Linked DNA regions of Homo sapiens. Each later gene encodes a partner of the first gene's protein in a complex. Each region holds a gene or a part of one and is shown on either strand. Other genes may lie near its edges. The genes, in order: SMARCAL1 and RPA2.

The links.
Region 2: the proteins of SMARCAL1 (region 1) and RPA2 are in contact, whole or in part, in a crystal structure (PDB 4MQV), measured with the Homo sapiens proteins. Residues at the interface, in NP_001120679.1 of Homo sapiens: Leu5, Gln9, Lys12, Ile13, Asn16, Arg17, Ala20, Leu21, Arg23, Arg24, Lys27; in NP_002937.1 of Homo sapiens: Pro222, Glu223, Ser250, Asn251, Glu252, Gly253, His254, Ile255, Tyr256, Ser257, Thr258, Val259, Asp260, Ser266, Thr267.

The regions. Positions count from the first base shown.
Region 1 is NC_000002.12:216,415,433-216,422,706, reverse strand, and holds part of SMARCAL1 (SWI/SNF-related matrix-associated actin-dependent regulator of chromatin subfamily A-like protein 1), read right to left. Parts: coding exon 7,192-7,274; intron 6,451-7,191; coding exon 6,400-6,450; intron 2,409-6,399; coding exon 2,175-2,408; intron 1-2,174. UniProt on the Homo sapiens protein: ATP-dependent annealing helicase that binds selectively to fork DNA relative to ssDNA or dsDNA and catalyzes the rewinding of the stably unwound DNA. Rewinds single-stranded DNA bubbles that are stably bound by replication protein A (RPA).
Region 2 is NC_000001.11:27,897,450-27,904,723, reverse strand, and holds part of RPA2 (replication protein A 32 kDa subunit), read left to right. Parts: intron 1-7,016; coding exon 7,017-7,091; intron 7,092-7,274. UniProt on the Homo sapiens protein: As part of the heterotrimeric replication protein A complex (RPA/RP-A), binds and stabilizes single-stranded DNA intermediates that form during DNA replication or upon DNA stress.

The DNA.
Region 1 (7,274 bases):
GGCATCATGGACACAGAGTCAGTTTCAGGAAAAAGCGAGGTCGTCCAGGTACAACCTGATGGAAGGAACAAAGCAGACAGACTAATCGTAAATGCAGAACTAGAAGGGGAAGGCCCTTTCTGACAACTTGATTCTCACAGTGGCACAGCAGCAAACAGGAAAAGATGTGAACAACAGCTAAGGCAAAGGAACCAATCACGGTTTTTGGACACCTGGGTGTGAGCAGGATCAGTATCCATACCTTCATGGTACCCACTCCCAGAATGCAGACCATGTCAGGAGTGTGATCTCACAGGCTGGTGATAGACACATATCACTGTATTTGCCTTTTTTATTTTTGAGATTGTCACCCAGGCTGGAGTGCAGTGGTGCGATCTAGGCTCACTGCAACCTCTGCATCCCAGGCTCAAGGGATTCTCCTGCCTCAGCCTCCTGAGTAGTTGGGATTACAGGATGGCACCACCACGCCTGGCTAGTTTTTGTATTTTTAGTAGACAGGGTTTCACCATGTTGGCCAGGCTGGTCTCGAACTCCTGTGACCTCAGGTGATCCACCCACCTTGGCCTCCCAAACTGCTGGGATTACAGGCCACAACACCCGGCCCGTAGTTGCCTTTTAAGGGCCACCCCAAGCTGAAGCCAAACACCTGAGGGGGCAGGAAAGGCAAAGGATCTAGACTGTCGTGGAGCAGCTCATCTCACGACCTGCCTGGGCCTCGCACAACTCCCCTGTGCCCTGCTCACCCGTCTGCCCTCATCAGTCCAAACTGCATCCATCTAAGGATGATGACGTAGCAACCAGCATCAGCCTCCTCCGGAACCCAAACCCTGATGAAAGCTCTTGTTAAGCAAGCAATTCTAGAGGCTTCTTCCAGGACAATGCTTGAATGTGAGGTCTCAAAGGCATGAGGTTTTAAGTATTTGAGTTCTACTTGATTAAGAACAAGATTAAACCAATTCAAGAATGGGGAAACACTGATCCATAAAAACTACATCGTTTTTAAAAAACAATGTGGCCCAAGCTGAGAATGACACCCAGGAGTCCAGAATCTATAGCTGCTTCTCCCCTATTCTGAAGGGGGAGCTTATGAAGAACCTCATGAAAAACTAAAGCAAAACGGCCAGGCACGGTGGCTCATGCCTGTAATTAATCCCAGCATTTTGGGAGGCCAAGGTGGGCGAAGAAGTTCGAGACAAGCCTGGCCAACATGATGAAACCTTACTTCTACTAAAAATACAAAAATTAGCCCAGTGTGGTGGCAGGTGCCTGTAGTCCCTGCTACTCGGGAGGCTGAGGCAGGAAAATCACTTGAACCCGGGAGGCAGAGGTTGCGGTGAGCCAAGATTGCGCCACTGCACTCCAGCCTGGGCAACAGAGTGAAACTTCATCTCAAAAATAAATAAAATAAAATACAGCAAAACTATTCTGTTGTGGCCAGTAGATTTCAAGACTGGCTTATAATTAGGCTTATCGGAAGATTAAAAAAACCAAAACAAACAAAAAACACCCCGACAATGTCCAAGCCCCACCTCCGACAAAATAAACATCTCTGGGTAAGAACCAGGCATCGGTGCTTTTGAAGTGGCCCTGTGATGCTGATGGGCAGGCCGAGAGCAGAACCACCAGCATTTTCAAACTGTGGCACCATCACCAGCAGCAGCACCAGCTCAGGGAACTTGTGAGAAACGCAAAAGTTTGGCTCCATGCTCAAGTTCCAGAATCAGAAACTCCAGTAGTGGGGCCCAGCTAGCTGCGTTTTAACAACCCCTGCAGGCAGTTCCCTGCAGGCTCAAGTTTGAAAACTACTAAGTTTGCATATGGAAAAGCATTTATTTTTATGGCAACCACCTGTTTTTCTGCTCTGCAAAGGCCAAAATAAAAACAGATGGGTTTTAAATGGCTGAAGCAGGAATTTACCTGCTTCTACCAAGAAGATATTGACCAGGGGGATATTATGAGGTCTTCTCTTTGGGAGGCCTTATGACAAAACAGCCACCACTGTATGTTTACTATCTGGAACAATTAACGTGTCATCTTTCTATAGGAAGAGGAGCAGAACAGGAAGTCTTTCCCAAGAAAGTAATTTTTGAATATTCGAGGTAGAGAAAAACACCCTATGTTGAGATCACAGACCACTACACATTCTGGGAATCAGACAAAGACCAATTACTTGCCATATCTTCTGGAATCCATCTGTTTAAAAAGCGCAATAAGGTCCTGTGAATAACTGATGTCTGCCTCGAAGTAGGCCCTGGAGATGAGCATGCATCGCCCTTTGACAAATGAAAGGGATGGAGCTGATGGAAGGCCGGCCTGTCCCTCACTGCTGGTGGAGGGTGACTCGCTGCTGCCATAGGCCCATTCCAGAGGCTGCAGGTTGACCGTGGGGAGGCTCTGGGCTGCTTTCACTGCCAAAGAAGAAGAATCGAACAGAAGTGATAAAGCAGGGGACTATGATGTGGCTTTGAAATACAGGCAAGGGAAGAGGGAGAAAGTGGGGAAGGGACATGGTCAAGAGGCACTAGGTTTGGCAGGAAGGCAAGAAAAGGCACTGTTAGATTAGGAAGACTTGAAAGTGTTTTTTAGTTGGGGCTTTGGGAATTTCAATATTTGCTGAATGTAACTTTCCATCTCCGTAAGTTTTTCTTTTTTTTTTTTCTTTTTTTTTTTTTTTTTTTGAGACGGGGTCTTGCTCTGTCACCTAGGCTGGAGTGCAGTGCCGTGATCATGGCTCACTGCAGCCTCAACCTCCCTGGCTCAAGTTATCCTCCACCTCAGACTCCCCAGTAGCTGGGACTACAGGCGTGCACCACCACATGCGGTTAGTTTTCGTATTTTTTGTAGAGTCAGGGTTTCGCTATGTTGCCCAGGCTGGTATCAAATCCCTAAGCTCAAACCATCTACGCACCTTAGCCTCCCGAAGTGCTGGTATTACAGGCATCAGGCACCATACCTGGCCTCCCTACATTTTTCACATCAAAACATTTAAAATTCAGAAATTAACAAGGGGAAGAGGAAGCTCGCCAGGATGAATAAACTTATTAGATAATTTCTGGCACGGTGTCGGAGAAGCCACTGAAGTCAGCACACCACAAATCACCCAGTTAAGCCCACTCCTAGGTCGCTACTCTGTCTACTGCTCAGAGAACAAAGGAGTGAGGACCAGGATCACCAGGTCACAAACACACAGTTCTGAACATTATTTCATCTACTACAGATGCATTTTATAATGAACAAATTCAGCTGTGTAACACTAAGCTGTCAACAGACACACACTGGAGTGAAAGGAAAAAAACCCTGAGTAAAGAAATATAAAAAGAACCCATGCTTTAAAAAAGTACTAAGACCACAAAAGAAGAGGGTAGTGTAGCCAATTCAAAACAGGAGGAAAAAGACTAAGAAACATTTGAAGAAATGTTCACCTTCACAAATAATCAGAAAAATAAGATACTTTTTTACTTCTCAAACTTGCAGGATGAGAAACAATTAGATATCCATATTGCTAGTTGGGAATAAAACCTGCTGGAAAACAATTTGGCAATTATAGCAAGAGCTCTAAGAATAATGATTCAACTTCTGGGAATCTATCCCAACTACCAGTTGAAAATACAGACAAAAACTTAGGTACGAAGGTGTTCCTCTACAGCTTTAAAACTGGAAAAACTGGCAGCCAATTAAAATCAAGCAGGAAAAAATAAACAACAACAATTTAAGCAATGTATGACACATTCATAAGACAGAATGTTATACAGCTATCAAAATTTATTTTGTATTAAAAATTCTGGAAAAGACAAAAGTAGTTCAACAACACGAAACCATTTCTTGAAGGTCAAAATGGCCCATTATGATAATGGACACATTTTCATCACTTAGAATTAACTGTTAACATTCAGTAAAGTAAATATGCTTTATGCTGGAGTATTAAATTAAAAGGGCAAAATACAAATTATATGCATATATAAAACTTTATATTTTAACGCATAGAAAAAAGGCTGGAGGGAATGAAACCAAAATGTTAATAATGGTTAGTTGAGTGGGGAGATTACGGGGGATGGTTTTTCTTCTTCACACGTCAAAATATGTTCTACAGTGAGTATGTGGTAGGGTTAATGAAGCCAAATCCAGAGATATACCTAAAGCAAAATGACAGAAAGACTGACACAGAGACAATTTTATATGTTATACCAATAAAAAGCCAATCATGAGACACAATCATGAACCTATCTGAAACTTAGAAATACAAGGAGAAATTCACAAATCCATAATTATGGCAAGGAATTTCAAGGTTTATCTCAGCAGGCAAAAGCTCAAGTGTGTAACACATTGGTAAAGATGCAGAGGAGCCAAACAATTAGAAAAATTCATCTGAAAGCTATATGGAGAATTTTTTTTCTCTTCTATGAGCTTCATTGAGAAGTATATATGGAGAATTTTGTATCCAATAAACATGGTTTTCAAAACATGTGGAGCATTACACAAAGCAATGATAGTCGGGCACAGTGTCTCACATCTATAATCCCAACAGTTTTAGAGGCTGAGGCAGGTAGATCACCTGAGGTCAGGGGTTCAAGACCAGCCTGGCCAACATGGAGGAAGCCCCATCTCTACTAAAAATATAAAAATTAGCCAGGCATGGTACACGCCTGAAATCCCAGCTACTCAGGAGGCTGAGGCAGGAGAATCACTTGAACCCGGAAGCCAGAGGTTGCAGGGAGCCAAGATCGCACCACTGCACTCCAGCCTGGGCGACAGAGTGAGACTCTGTCTCAAAAAAAAAGTAACGATATCACACAAAAAACCTAAATGAATCTGCAAAAGCAGAAGTCATCTAAGTCACCATGCACCGTGGTCAGAACAAGAGTAAAAAGACAAAACAACCGCAACAGGGGAAACCACTGGTTTAAGATCACCAGCAATGAGAATACCAGGTGTCAAAATCTGCAATCTTTATCCAGAGCCTTGGGTCTCCCCGTTCCAACACCAAATAAATCGATTAAAAAATGAGCCCTCACTAGACGGAGCTAGCAGCAGCAGCGTTATGGGTTGAATTGTGTCCCTCCAAAATTCATGTTAAACACACAGCCCAGGACCTCAGAATGTGATTGTATATGGAGATAGGGCCTTTAAAGAGGTTAATAAGTTAAATGAGGTCACCAAGGTGGGCGATAATCCAATGACTGGTGTTCTTCTAAGAAAAGGGAGAGACCCTAGGGATTTGCACACACAAAGGAAAATCCAAACAAGGACACAGAGAGAAGACAGCCACCTGCAGGGCATGGAGAGAGGCCTCTGAAGAAACCAACCCTACCAATCTCAGGCTTCCAGCCTCCAGGACTGTAAAAAATAAATTTGTATTGTTTAAGCCACCCAGTCAGTGGTACTTTGTCACGGCAGCCCTCGCAAACTAACAACACTAGCAGCTACCAAAGAAAGATATCGCCTAATGTACACATTTCAAGAATTGGAGGCCAAGGAGAAAACCAGGAAATTCTGCAGGGAGCTGTCCCATCACTGGCCCAAACCACCTTTCCCAGAAACTGTACTGGTGCCTCCAGATAATCCTACCTCATACCCCAAATCTGCAAAGTGACCTAAGCATACATCCTTATCTTTTCCTTTCTTAAGCTAGGGGGAGGAAGAGACGGTGTAGAAATGGCAGCTGGGGGAGAAGAGTAAAATAAATGGAAGATGAAAACACACAGGGCTGACGCTTTGACACAGGTGTGCAAGCTCCATGTACCAGGATCAAGTGACAAAAACTTTAGTGTATGACAGTTTTCTCAGAAGACAGAGGGACGTAACCAGGTGCTGACTATGACCAGACACTGCATTAGCTGGAACTTGCCTGGCCAATGCCCCCTCCTTGCATTTTTGAGTAGTTAGCTGCACAGAGAGTACTCTGAGGATCTGTGCTGTTTGCTGAACTGTTACCTTCCTGGGAGCAGGGGCTGGCAGGCTGCCTGAGCTGCCTGTCACTGCTGGGGCCAGCATAGTCTGGTGGGAACGTGTAGTCTGAAGTCAGACTGTCAGGGTTTGAATCCCAGTTGTACAACTTATTGGCTATGTGACCCTGTGTTACTGACTCATCGTCCCTGGGCCTCAGTTTCCCCATCTGTAAAAAAGTCATTATAAGGAATAAAAGTTAGCATAAGGGGCTTAGAATAGCCTAATGCAAAGCAAGCATCATTTAATGCTAGCTTTTGTTAATACTACTAACGGCCTTCACCCACAGAGCTGCCTCATTAGGCTAGACAGAGTGGGAAGGAGTGTTGGGGGGGGTGCCCTGAAAGCTTTCACCACCTGTAAAGCCATGCACTCCATAAGCTGGACTACATGTGATACTCTAAAGATTTTCAGCACCAGTGCCACCCTCCATGAGACAACCATGTGTCTACTTACTCAGGGCACTATAGTCATTCATGCTGAAGTTCCACGTCTTGGTGTCAGGATCTGAAACAAAACAGAGGACTGATGACTGTTGACAATTTGTACTTAGGCACTCAACACAAGCTTGTCTTCTAAATGAATGAATGAAGGACGCCAAGTTCAAAACAGCTGACCAGCAAGCCCCCACTGATCTATAAAAATCTCTGTAGAGGACAAATAGTAAATATAGATAATTCTTTTATTCCATGTAGTGGAATCCAACTCAGGCCCTGGGAAGTTATGAACTTCACCTAAGAGGACTGAGGGCAGAGTTAGGACTAGAATCCAAGTTCTCCAGGTCGTAGTGTGGTCAGGCAAAGCAGTATGAGGAGTAATGGCTCTGGCCTGTAATTGAGCTAGTCACATCCTGACGCTGCCTTTCCAGACCAATGAAACTGGGCCTGTCACTTAATCTTGCTGGGCCAGTTCCATCACCTTAAAAACTAAAATAACATCTACTTATTTCAAAAAAACTGCTGTTCAGCTTAAGTGCTACAATGCATATAAAGCACCTGGCAGAGGAAGCGTCTTCTCAGTAACATTCAACTGTTCTCCAGATGGCCACGTGACAACCATCAAGTTTGGCAGCTGTTTAAGGGAATGACTATTATGAAGGGAAACAAGCTAAAATTGAAAAATTTTTAACAACTGGATGGACAGCATGTGCCAATGCACTCTCTTAATATTTATGAGAAACTGTTAGATTAAAAGAGACTCCAAAAATAAGAAAAAAAAAAAAAAACAGCTGAAAAATGAAGACATTACCATAATTCTTGCTGGGCAGGGTCTTAAACACTGCAATGAGTTCCGCATTGTACCCAATCAACACCTGGAAACGATCGCCGTTC
Region 2 (7,274 bases), on another chromosome or scaffold:
CACTGCACTCCAGCAGATTGCGCACTGCTCTGTTGCTCTGGGCAACAGAGCAAGACTGACTCAAAAAAAAAAATGCGGTTCTCCTTCAAAAACCACAAGTTATCTATAGAGAAATAACTTGGTAGTTATGTAATTTTTAAATTTTTTCCTTCTCAGAAAAATAAAGGATAATTCATTCAGCAGTTATTGTTGGAGTACCAATTCTGAACTAGACTGTGCTTGGTTCCAGGTATAAAAAGAATGAGGTAGACACAGTCCCTGCCATCAAGCAGGGAGGTAGATACTATGGATACCTAATACTACTTGTTCATATAAAATGCACTATGCTTGCTTATAAACCATTTAAAAAATCACCTGACATCTCATGTCTCTTAAAGAACTACTATTACGACACATTTTGGAAAATACCCTTTCAGACATCTGTCTCTGCATATATGTACATACAGGTGTCCACATACCTCTTTTACTGTAGAAGGGATAATATGCTATGCAACTGCTAAGTAATTTGCTCTTTTCACTCAAAATTATGTTGTGGAACTGATTTTTTTTTTTTTTTTTGAGATGGAGCTGTGCTCTTGTTGCCCAGGCTGGAGTGCAATGGCGCGATCTCCAGCTCACCACAACCTCCGCCTCCCAGGTTCAAGCAATTCTCCTGCCTCAGCCTCCAGAGTAGCTGGGATTACAGGCATGTGCCACCACACCTGGTTAATTTTGTATTTTTATTAGAGACAGGGTTTCTCTGTATTGGTCAGGGTGGTCTCGAACTCCCAACCTCAGGTGATCCACCTGCCTTGGCCTCCCAAAGTGCTGGGATTATAGGCATGAGCCATTGGCCTTTTTTTTTTTTTTTTTTTTTTTTAAATAGAGACAGGGTCTTGGCTTGCTGCCTAGGCTGGCCTCAAACCTGGGCTCAAGTGATCCTTTGGCCTTAACCTCCCAAGTAGCTGGAACTATAGGCTGATGCCACCGTGCCTGGTGAGGAGCTGATTTTTTTTTTTTTTTTTGAGACTGAGCTTCACTCGTGTTATCCGGGCTGGAGTGCATTGGTGCAATCTTGGCTCGCTGCAACCTCTGCTTCTCGGGTTCAAGCGATTCTCCTGCCTCAGCCTCTCGAGTAGTTGGGACTATAGGCGTGCACCACCACACCCAACTGATTTTTGTATTTTTAGTAGAGACGGGGTTTCAACATGTTGGCCAGGCTGGTCTCGAACTTTTGACCTCAGGTGATCCTGCCTCAGCCTCCCAAAGTGCTGGGATTACAGGCTTGAGCCACCATGGCCCAGCCAAGAACTGATTTTTTAATGTTATCTGTAAAGATTTACATCTATCATTTTAAATGACCACCGATTCCATTATAAGAATACATCATCCCTTACTTAACAGTGGACCCAGTCAGGGAACAACATTTAACTTCTTTTCAGTCGTTTGCTATTATATACAATGCTCCAGTGAGTATCTTTGCATACATTTCTTCATGATTATAAAATAATCGTAAGGCCAGGCGTCGTGGCTCACGCCTGTAATTCCAGCACTTTGGGAGGCCAAGGCAGGTGGATCACCTGATGTCAGGAGTTCAAGACCGGCACCGCCAACATGGTGAAACCCCATCTCTACTAAAAATACAAAATTAGCTGGGCGTGGTGGCACACACCTATAATACCAGCTACTCGGGAGGCTGAGTCAGGAGAATCAGTTGAAGCTGGGAGGCAGAGACTGCAGTGAGCCAAGATCGTGCCATTGCATTCAGCCTGGGCAACAAGAGCAAAACTCCATCTCAAAAAAATAAAATAATCATAAGATGTATTCCTAAAAGTAGGTTTTCTGGGGGGAAATACACATTTGACATTTTTTTAACATCTTAGTTTTTGCATTTTTGTACTGTCTTCTCTAAAGGTACCAGTTTACGCTTCAGTCATGCATGAGAGTGCCCAGTTAGTTTCCATACCCTTAACATTTTTTTTTTTAAGAAATAGGCTGGTCTCAAACTCCTGGGTTTAAGCAATCCTCCCACCTCAGCCTCCCAAAGTGCTGGGATTACAGGTGTGAGCCTCTGTGCCTATCCTCCATACCCTTTATAACAATGGGTTTTTGTCTTAAATTTTTGCCAGTGTGATAGTTGTTTTAAAAAATAGTCTTTTTGACTAGGTGCGGTGGCTCATGCCTGTAATCCCAGGACTTTGGGGAGGCCAAGATGAGTGGATCACCTGAGGTCAGGAGTTTGAGACCAGCCTGGCCAACATGGTATAACCCAGTCTCTACTAAAAATAAAAAAATTAGTCTGGCATGGTGGTGCACGCCTGTAGTCCCAGCTACTCGGGAGGCTGAGGCACAAGACTCGCTTGAACCCAGGAGGCAGAGGTTACAGTAAGCGGAGATCTTCACACCAGTGCACTCCAGCCTGGGCAACAGAGCAAGACTGTCTCAAAAAAAAAAAAAAGTATACGTAAAAATAATAAAAAAAATTAAAAAATTAGCAGGGCATGGTAGCACGTGCCTGTAGTCCCAGCTATTCGGGAGGCTGAGGCAGGAGAATTGCTTGAGCCTGGGAGATGGAGGTTGCAGTGAGTCAAGATTGCGTCACTGCCCTCTAGCCTGGGCATCAGAGCAATATTCCATCTCAGAAAAAAATAGTCTTTTCAGTGAAAATTTTGTCATTTTTTTATGTGTATTTCTTTGGTTTTAGCCATATATATGTATTTTTTTTTTTACTATGTTTAATGTCAATTTGTGGGGTTTTTGTAAATTTTCTCTTTGATTCCCCTTCCCCTAACAGTGTTTTTGTTTGCAAGAACTTGAAAATGATTATAGTGACCTCTTATAATGAGGCCAGGCACAGTGGCTCACACCTGTAACTTTAGCACTTCAGGAGACTTAGGCAGGAAGATCACTTGAGGCCAGAATTTCAAGACCAGCCTGGGCAGCATGGGAAGACCCTATCTCAAAAAGAAATAATTTTGAAAAATAAATTGTGCAGTTTTTTCTAGTTTACCTTTCGGAAGCTTCTACTAGTCCCAAAGTTTGTTTTTTTTGTTTGTTTGTTTTAGTTAAAAAATACTTTATGGTGGCTGGGCGCGGTGGCTCACGTCTATAATCCCAGCACTTTGGGAGGCCGAGGCGGGAGGGTCACCTGAGGTCAGGAGTTCAAGACCAGCCTGGCCAATGTGGTGAAGCCCTGTCTACTAAAAATACAAAAATTAGCCAGGTGTGGTTGTGGGCACCTGTAATGCCAGCTACTTGGGAGGCTGAGGCAGGAGAATCGCTTGAACCCAGGAGGTGGAGGTTGCAGTGAGCTGAGATCGCGCCATTGCACTCCAGCCTGGGCAACAGGAGCGAAACTGTCTCTCAAAAAAAGAAGAAAAAAAAAAACTTTATGGCTAACAAATTGTAATAATCAGTTATCCGAACCCTCAGCAATTCATAATGTTTTTGCTAGTGGACATTCTTGCCTCACTGTTGATGGCTGCTGACTGAGGAGGGTGGTAGTTGGCTGAAGGTTGAGCTGGCTGTGGCAATTTCTTGAAATAAGACAACAAAGTTTGCCTGAGTAACTGAGTCTCCTTTTCACATAAAATTTCTCGATATTATATCATGCTGTTTGATAGCATTTTACTTACAGTATAACTTCTTTCAAAATTGGATTCAATCTCAAACCCTGCTACTGCTTTCTCAACTAAACTTATGGAGTAGTCTAAATCCTTTATTGTCGTTTTAACAATGTTCACAGCATCTTCACTAGGAGGAGATTCCATCTCAAGAAACCAGTTTATTTGCTCATCCATGAGAAGCAACTCCTTTGAGAGGCCCAGGCGGCCAGATAGATCATTTGAGGTCAGGAGTTTGAGACCACCCTGGCCAGCATGGTGAAACCTCGTCTCTACTAAAAATAAAAAATTTAGCTGGGCATGGTGGTACATGCCTGTAATCCTGGCTACTCGGGAGGGTGAGGCAGGAGAATCACTTGAACCTGAGAGATGGAGGTTGCAGTGAGCCAAAATTGTGCCACTGCCCTCCAGCCTGGGTAACAGAGTGAGGCTCAGTCTCAAAAAAAAGGAAGCAACTCCTCATCCACTCAAGTTTTACCATAAAGTTACAGCAATTCAGTTATATCTTTAAGCTCCATTTCTAATTCCAGTTCTCCTGCTATTTCCACCACATCTGCTGTTACTTGCCCCACTGAAGGTGGAGGTAGCAGTGAGCCCAGATTGTGCCATTGCACTCCAGCCTGGGTGACAGAGCGAGACCTTATCTCAAAAAAAAAAAAAAAATCTTAAGCAGCCACCCAATATATACTTCAGATTAAAAAAGAGCTGTTGGCCAGGTGCGGTGGCTCATGCGTGTAATCTCAGCACTTTGGGAGACTGAGGCAGGTGGATCACTTGAGGCCAGGAGTTTGACACCAGCCTGGCCAATAAGGTAAAACCCCGTCTCTACTAAAAATGCAAAAACTAGCCGGGCACAGTGGTGCATGCCTGTAATCCCAGCTACTCAGGAGGCTGAGGCAGGAGAATCACTTGAACCCGGGAGGCACAGGCTGCAGTGAGCCGAGATCCCACCATTGTAATCCGTCCTGGATGATAAAACGAGACCTTATCAAAAAACCAAATAAATAAATCTCAGCTGGGTTCGGTGGCTGACGCCTGTAATCCCAACACTTTGGGAGGCGGAGGCGGGTGGATCACCTGAAGTCAGGAGTTCAAGACTAGCCTGGTCAATGTGGCAAAACCCTGTCTATTAAAAATACAAAAGCCGGGCACCGTGGCTCACGCCTGTAATCCCAGCACTTTGGGAGGCCGAGGCGGGCGGATCACGAGGTCAGGAGATCGAGACCATCCTGGTTAACAGGGTGAAACCTTGTCTCTACTAAAAATACAAAAAATTAGCCGGGCGTGGTGGCGGGCGCCTGTAGTCCCAGCTACTAGGGAGGCTGAGGCAGGAGAATGGTGTGAACCCATAAGGCGGAGCTTGCAGTGAGCTGAGATCCCACCACTGCACTCCAGCCTGGGCGACAGAGCGAGACTCTGTCTCAAAAAAAAAGAAAAAAATTGTTCATATTATTTCTATGGTTTCTTTTATTATAATTAAACCTATGATCTACATGGAATATATTTTGATAAAAGGAGTTGAGGTAGAGATCTTTTCTCAAGTGGATTCAAAATGTTGTATATGGGAATACAATTGTTTTGTTTGTGTGGTTTTTTTTTTTTTTTTTTCTTTTTTTTTTTGAGATAGAGTCCTGCTCTGTTGCCCAGCCTGGAGTGCAGTGGCACAGTCTCTCACTGCAACCTCTGCCTCCTGGGTTCAAGTGATTCTCCTGCCTCAGCCTCCCGAGTAGCTGGGACTACAGGCACCCACCACCACACCTGGCTAATCTTTGCATTTTTAGTAGAGACAGGGTTTCCCTGTTAGCCAGGCTGGTCTCGAACTCCTGACCTCGTGATCCGCCCGCCTCAGCCTCCCAAAGAGCTGGGATTACAGGCGTGAGCCACTGTGCCCACCCTTTTTTTTGTATTATTAACAGAGGCAGGGTTTCACCACGTTGGCCAGGCTGGTCTCGAACTCCTAACCTCAAGTGACTTGCTCGCCTTGGCCTCCCAAAATGCTAGGATTACAGGCATGAGTCACTGCACCTGGCCAGAGTTTTTATTTTTAAGCATATATTTTCTAGTTTTTTGTTTGTTTTTAGAGACGAGGTCTCACTATGTTGCCCAGGCTGGTTTCAAACTCCTGAGCTCGAAGGATCCTCCTGCCTTGTCCTCCTAAAGTGCTAGGATAACAGGTGTGAGTCCATATACCCCGATATATTTTCAATTTTTTTTAAAGTAATACATTTTATGTAGTCAGAAAAGAACTTTAAAAATCAGCTAATGGGCCGGACACGATGGCTCAAGCCTGTAATCCCAGCACTTTGGGAGGCCGCGACGGGTGGATCATGAGGTCAGGAGATCGAGACCATCCTGGCCAACATGGGGAAACCCCGTCTCTACTAAAGATACAAAAAAAATACAAAAAAATTAACCAGGTGTGGTGGCAGGCGCCTATAGTCCCAGCTATTTGGGAGGCTGAGGCAGGAGAATCACTTAAACTTGTGAGGCAGAGGTTGCAATGAGCCGAGATCATGCCGCTCCACTCCAGTCTGGGTGACAGAGCAAGACACTTCGTCTCAAAAAAAAAAAAAAAAATCAGCTAATGTATTTTTCTTATAAATAATGTGTGCATATTCTAGGAAACTGATAAGTATTAAAATCGTTTTTAATTATCTTAGTCAACCATTATAAACAGTTTAGTGTGTATTGTCCCAAATGGGAAATCAGCTTTTTTCCATGTATCATGACTTGTTTTTCCAGGCAGTAAATAGAATTCTATGTTATCATTTGCAACAGTGTGGAGTATCCTATTATATAGAAATGTGTACTTTATGTTGGATATTTAGGTTGTTTTAAAATTTTTAATATTCTATACTATGATAAATCTAAATCTTAATGCATGTTCTTAATTACTTCCTTAAATTCCTAAAAGTAGAATTGCTTTGCCAATAAGTATATCCACCAGAAAATTGTGTGCCTGCCGGGCGTGGTGGCGGGCGCCTGTAATCCCAGCTACTGGGGAAGTTGAGGCAGGAGAATTACTCAAACCCTCCCTTGGGAGGCGGAGGTTGCAGCGAGCCAAGATCGTGCCACTGCACTCCAGCCTGGGTGACAGAGCGAGACTCCCTCTCAAAAAAAGAAAAAAGAAAATTGTGTGCCTAAGAGCTTGAACGAGAGTGTCACAATTGTTTGCTTTTTTATGATGTGCTACAGAACTTTGGAACTGATAATTACCTTTAGAGATATTTTTATTCTAATTCCTGGTTTTACAAAATAAGTTGTAAAAGGCAGGGCAAACTACTTAATGCCATTTTAGGATCCTTTAACTCTTCTACTTCGTAACTTTCTCTTTCTATACATAATATAGAAACGTTAAAGAGGCTTTTACCAGCATCACTAAAACTTTAATGACATGTTTGTATTTTATGTTAGGACACCAGCAGTGAAAACACTGTGGTTCCTCCAGAAACATATGTGAAAGTGGCAGGCCACCTGAGATCTTTTCAGGTAAAGTCAGAATAAAATAACAGTTAAAGTGTTTTTGCATGAAGCAGTTTCTAGATTCATGTCATGGCTTTTGGATAGTTAAAATACTTAAGTCTCCCTGTTTAATGGGAAGTTATTTCTTACTCTCTTCAAAAGGAAATAACTTTTCTTTTTTTTTTTTTTAACCTTAACATGAAATTAACA